Regions from separate parts of the Homo sapiens genome. Here region 2 is linked to region 1. The links come from fine-mapping of genetic effects on gene expression. A gene starts in region 1. The other region holds a variant in brackets. All regions are shown on one strand. Distances are between the middles of the regions. Region 1 holds the start of SLC1A2 (solute carrier family 1 member 2). Region 2 overlaps PAMR1 (peptidase domain containing associated with muscle regeneration 1).

Region 1 (2,913 bases):
GTGTGAGTATTCAAAGAATCCTTTTGCCCCCTGCAGCCCCTTCTGTCTCTTGCTAAAGACAATTGTCTTTAGTTATCACTGCGAGGGAGCTTTCCCCATGCCAGCTGGAATCTTGGGAGGCAGGACACGACTCCAGATCCTCGGGCTGAATAGGGAAGCCAATGCTATCCCTGCCCGCTGGAGTCTGGCGACTCCTGCCCTTGTCCCAAACCACACGTTTTCCCGCCTCCCGGGAAGCACCCAAATCTCTTCCACCCTTCCTTAGAGCTAGCCAGGGAGATTCCGCCTTCCAGGGACAAGGACCGATCGGAGCGGGCCCAGCATCTCCATGGCGACTCTGCAAACCTGGCGTTCAAGGCCGCGCGCGCTGGTCCTTGCCCCGCCCCAGGGCCCTGTCTTGGCTCATTCCTTCCGAGCCGGCACCACCTGCAAGCCCGCCTCGGGCCTGGGGCGCCGCGCTCCAGGCGCTGCTACCCCGGTGTCTGCTCACACTATGCCCAATCCCCTATTGTTTTGAAATCCCAAAAGTAACCTCAAGAGGATTTCTTCCTCACACTCTCAGGCCCCCAGCGCACCTTACCCTTTTTATCAAAATAAAACAACCCTCCACCTCTCGCATTTTCAAAGGATTAAGCAGCAATCTCCAGGAAAGAAAATCAATCCCCTCCCCACCATCCCATCCCCAGCCAAGCTACGGCTCCGCCACCACCTCCGAGGCCCGCCGCCGCCGCCTCTCTATCCGCATCCCGGATAGGGGCGCCACCACCCCGCGCGTGACCCCGCTTTCCCGCGGGTACAGATAAAAATCCCCTCACCCTTCCGTAGATGCCATGGTCTGGGGAACGCCCCCTCCTCTTCAGCACTATCCGGCAGCTGTGGGCGAGGGAGAAAGCGGACGCCGGGGTGAGCGCGAAGTGCGGCCGGGAGCGGTATTTAAGAGGAGCCTCTGCCCGCCCTTCCACCCGCCTCCGGGGTAAGCCCTTTAGCGCCTCAACGGGCGCAGGAGGCTCCTGCGGGCGCTAATCCGCGTCCCGGCTCTCCACGGCGCGCGACCCGCGCTCCCCTCCGCCCGCGGGGATGGCGCTTGGCGGGGAGCTCCGGGGGCTCCGAGGGTGGCTTCCCCGAGAGAGCGATGCGCCCAGGGCTGCAGGAGGGCGCACGCCGGCGATGCGCCCCTGCAGCCGCTGCCACCTGTGCTTTGCTGCGGGGCTCGCGGGCGCGGCGAGTGGCGGGAGCAGAGAGTGGTGGCAGAGGACGGTGAGCGTGCGTGCGCGTGTGCGGGTGTGTGCGCGCCTGGGGAGGCGGTGGAGGCCGCTGCGCTCTGGCTCGGCGCCGGCCAGGGAGGGATTGCAAGGTTTAGCCCCGCCGGAGCTGGGGATTTGCAGGCGATCCCTCTCTATTTTCGTCGAGAGCTGACATCACCCGCGCCGCCGCCTCGGGCAACTCCTTTAACCGCCGCCCCCCGCCCCCATCTCCAGTCGCGGTCCCTCCTCTGCCATCCCTCCCCCCAGCCTCTCGCCATAAATTAGCCAAATAAGAAAAGAGGCCCCGCCGCTCGTCCGGGAAGGCTTGGGCAGCCGGTGGCAGGAGCCCAGGATCTAAGGAGTAGCTATTGTTTCCCCTGAAGCCCGCGTGGCCCCAGGTCACCCCGTGCGGGGTGAAGCGCAGGCGACCGCGCGGAGACCCGGGATGCCCCTCCGTCTCCGCCTCCCTGGAGCAGCCCCTGGCGCTCCCTCCTCACTCCCCGGAGCACCCGCTTCAGCTCACACTCACCCCCAAACTCACAGGCAGGCACACCCACCCCATCCTCCCACGTCTGGGGGTCCCAGGTCCAGCGGAGTCGAGCGGCTGAAACACGCGGGTGGTGCAGCCTAAACGCGGCCCAGCTGCGCTCCCTCCCCCGCCGAAGCTCGAATAAATCTCTGGCCTTCAATTATTCAGCGAGATTAATATTAATGCAGCTCCCTGGGGGCGGCGGGCGGGGTGCAGGGGAGGCCGGGATTTTTTTTTTTTTTTTTTAGGCCGAGAGAGGTCGGCCTCGTGGGTGCCGGCTGAGAAGGCGCGGAGAGTTGGCCGAGGGGTGAGTGGCGGGGGACGGTTCTCCACCCACTCGGCGCTGCTCGCCGCCTGCTTCCGTGTCCCGGGGGCGGCGCACAGAGACAGATGGGCTTGTGCAAGGGAGAGTTCGAGCCTTCCGGACGCCTTTGCATAAAAATGACGAGACCTGTGCAGCTTTGATTATCTCTGGAATACTGCAGGAACCTAGGGTCCCACTACTTGCCGACCCTGTGAGCGCAGAGCAGGCAAAGCCTCACTTTCCTCGTCTAGGCAATGGAACCCAAAAGAACTCACTTGGAGGGCCACAGGAGAATTAAACAGACTCTCTTTTTCCCCGGGGTAGACGATCTTCGGATTTGCGCTGTGCTGGACCTTGTTAGACGATGGAACGCGACCGGCCACGTGCAAACTCTCTGAGTAGGTCCCGGGGATGGTGCCAGAGGAGCCGGAGTCCCAGCAGGACCGATTGGTAGTTAAATGCCAGGCGCTGATATCCGAAGGCTTGAGTTCTTCACCACCTTCTAGCTGAGTAACCTGGGGCAAATTCCTCCATCTCTCTCTTCATCCCACCTGTAAAATGGGACTATCTTCTCCCACTTCTCTGTGCTAAGAGAACTAAATGAAATGGAGAGGATATGTAAAACTCCTAAAGTGGCGTCTGGCACCCAGTAAACCCTCCAAAAATATTCAGTGCATTTTCAGAGTCCTTAGAAGATAGTTTATTGGACAAAATATCCAAGTATGAACAGACAGATGAGAAAAATAACAAGAAAAAGAGGGGAAAACACATTAATAAAATTTAAAAAATAAATCTCTGCTTACCTCCTTCCTTTACTCTCCTTTCCAAAATCTGAA
Region 2 (2,913 bases), 78 kb after region 1:
ATCATAGAAGGCAGACACTCGCACAATGAGGGACAGTTATTTAAATGGAATAAATTTAGTTTCATGAAAATTTGACTTTTTAAATCATTTTTCCACAAATTAGTGGGCCAGAAAAGATCCTTACATTGGTGTTTGGGAATGAATGGCTACATCATCATAGCATAATCGCCACTGAGATTTCTTTCCACCACTACTGTCTGAGCCCCTTCAGGGTGACCACCATGACTTACTTAGCTGCGCTTCCCATGTCTCTGATGTTTTACTGACAAAGTGAATGACTTCTAAAATCTGGATGAGAATTTAATGGTTAAAAGTGAGGAACAGCAGAAGGAAACATAGGAGTAAATCTCCATCCATGATCTTGGATTTGGCTATGGATTCTTAGACATGACACCAAAAGCAGGAGCAACAAAATAAAAATGAATTAGACTTTATCAAAATTAAAAATGTTTGTGCAGCAAAGGACATTATCAAATAAGTGAAAAGACCACCCACAAAATGGGAGAAAATATCAGAAAATATTTCTGATAAAGGCTTGATATCCAGGACATATTTCTAAAACTCATACAACTCAACCATAAAAAAGACAACATAGTTTTTTAAATGAGCAAATGACTTGAATAGACATTTCTCCAAAGAAGCTATATAAACGGCCAACAAGCACACAAAAAGATGTTTAACATCACAAGTCATTTGGGAAATGCAAATCAAAATCACAATGAGCTACCACTTACTAGGGTGGCTATGATCCAAACCAAGGGAAAAATGGAAAACAAGTGTTGGCAGAGAAGTAGAGAAATTGGAACCCTTGTATATTGCTGATAGAAATGTGAAATGGTGCAGCCCCTATGGAAAACAGTTTGGCAGTTCCTCTTAAAGCTAAACAGAATTGCCCAGCAATTACACTTCTAGGTATAGATCTAAAAAATTGAAAACAGAGACTCAGAGATACTTGTATGCCAATGTTCATTCACAATAGCCAAAAGGTGGAAACAACTCAATTTTCCATCAAGAGACAAATGGATAAACAAAATGAGGTACATGGGCTGAACGCAGTGGCTCACACCTGTAATCCCAACACTTTGGGAGGCTGAGGCAGGCAGATCACTTGAGGCCAGGAGTTTGAGACCAGCCTAGCCAACATGGTGAAACCTCATCTCAACTAAAGATACAAAAAATTAGGCGGGAGCAGTGGTGCACACCTGTAATCCCAGCTACTTAGGAGGCTGAGGCACGAGAATCGCTTGAACCCAGGGGCAGAGGTTGCAGTGAGCCAAGATTGTGTCATTGGACACCAGCCTGGGAAACAGACCAAGACTCTTGTCTGAAAATAATAGTAATAATAACAAATAATATAAAAAATAAAAAATGAGGTACGTGCATACAATGGAATATTATTCAGCCATGAAAAGAAATGAGGAGCTGCTAGGTGCTACAATGTAAATGAACCTTGAAATCATGCCAAGCAAAAGAAGCCAAACACAAAAGGACAAATATTGTCTGATTCTACTTAAATGCAATATCTACAATAGGCAAATTCATAGAGACAGAAAGTAGATTAAAGGTTACCAGGAGCTGGGGGAAAGCTGAATGGAGAGGTGTTGCTT[G/A]ATGGTTACAGAGTTTCTGTTTGGGGTGGTGAACTAGATACAGGTGATGGTTGCACAATCACAGGAATCTAATTAACGCCACAGAATTATACACTTAAAATGGCTAAAATGGCACATTTTCTTAGCCTTCTCTATCCTTCCACTCCTCCTCTGATTATCTGCACTGGGCTTTAATTACCCCTTAGCTCTCCCTTCATTGTACATTTATATCTTCCTATAGGTAAAATGTTTTTGTGTGTCCATAAACCCTAAGACCATGTTGACCACTCTGAATTTTCAATAAATAGTGATTGATCAACTATAACATGTCACTGTACTGATATTTATTACTGTACTACATTATAACATTCAACTTCTCTTCTTTCTCATTGCAAGTAAAATATCTAAAAATTATAACTCAATACAGCTTTCTTTTTTTATATATATAGCTTCTTTTTAACATAGAAAAAAATCATATTTTCAAAGGCTGAGAGAATGAAGGGAAGCCATCCAGTTAGAAAGGATAGCATACCCAAAGGCCACAGGATGGAAATAAACACAGGCCATATGCACAGGACAAAAACCAAGCTTACTTGAAAGTAGCAAAGACTATGAATCCTGTGCAAGTTCTTGTTTACATCACATGCTCCTACCTGTGCCAAGTTTTCCTAGTGGAATGTGTGTTATTAATAATATGCTGTAGTTTTGTAAATCCATGTGGTATAGCCCATTATTCAAATTATTCAAATTTTGGTATTTGTGATACCAGAAAAGGGCACATTTTATGTTATCTACATATATATTACCACAATTTTTTAATTGTGAAAAGTCGAGGAGGGAGAGTGAGAGAGAACAAATTGGTTAGAGGCTCAAACATGGGAGTCAACAGACCTGCATTTGGAATCTCCCTCTGCTACTTGCCTTGGCAAAGCTACGTTACTCTCTCAGTCTCAGTTTAGTATCCAGTAAAATGAGTGTACATTTTCTCCAATTTAGGCCTGTTGAAAATACTAGACAAAATAATGCATATAAACAGCTTAGCACAGCACCCAGTATGTACTAAACATTCAGAAACTAATAGCTTAGAAAGAAAAAAAGAAAAACAATAGAGAATGCTCATATTTCTCAAGGATATGGTTTTTTACGTATGTCAGATCAATTTCTTGCTTAAAATGGTCACCTTGCTTCCCATCGCTTTTGCAGTAACCCTCAAATTCTCTGCCCCAGCCCACAAGGCCTTTGAGGCCTATGCTCACCCGACTCCGTCCACCTTTTCCTGGCCACTGTTTCCCACCTTCTCTCCATTTCTCAAAACCACCAAGCTCTG

Evidence for each region. PIP is the estimated chance that this variant, and not a neighbour inherited with it, causes the effect. A credible set is the group of variants that fine-mapping cannot tell apart.
Region 2: its variant is the best candidate, but not a certain one, in a credible set for the expression of SLC1A2 in nasal epithelium (TOPMed, PIP 0.79).

The regions. Positions count from the first base shown.
Region 1 is chr11:35,418,135-35,421,047 of GRCh38, forward strand. It overlaps SLC1A2 (solute carrier family 1 member 2), which reads right to left and starts at 1,424. Exons shown (of 11, transcript NM_004171.4): 1 at 816-1,424. The coding sequence starts at 832. SLC1A2-AS2 (SLC1A2 antisense RNA 2) reads left to right here and starts at 923. Exons shown (of 2, transcript NR_186310.1): 1 at 923-973; 2 at 2,402-2,868. RefSeq lists an enhancer at 1,070-1,570.
Region 2 is chr11:35,495,840-35,498,752 of GRCh38, forward strand. The region is part of intron 1 of PAMR1 (peptidase domain containing associated with muscle regeneration 1); the gene reads right to left. Among named protein-coding and RNA genes, the nearest start is that of PAMR1, 28 kb to the right of the region's middle. The variant G/A (reference allele first, on the strand shown) is at 1,608.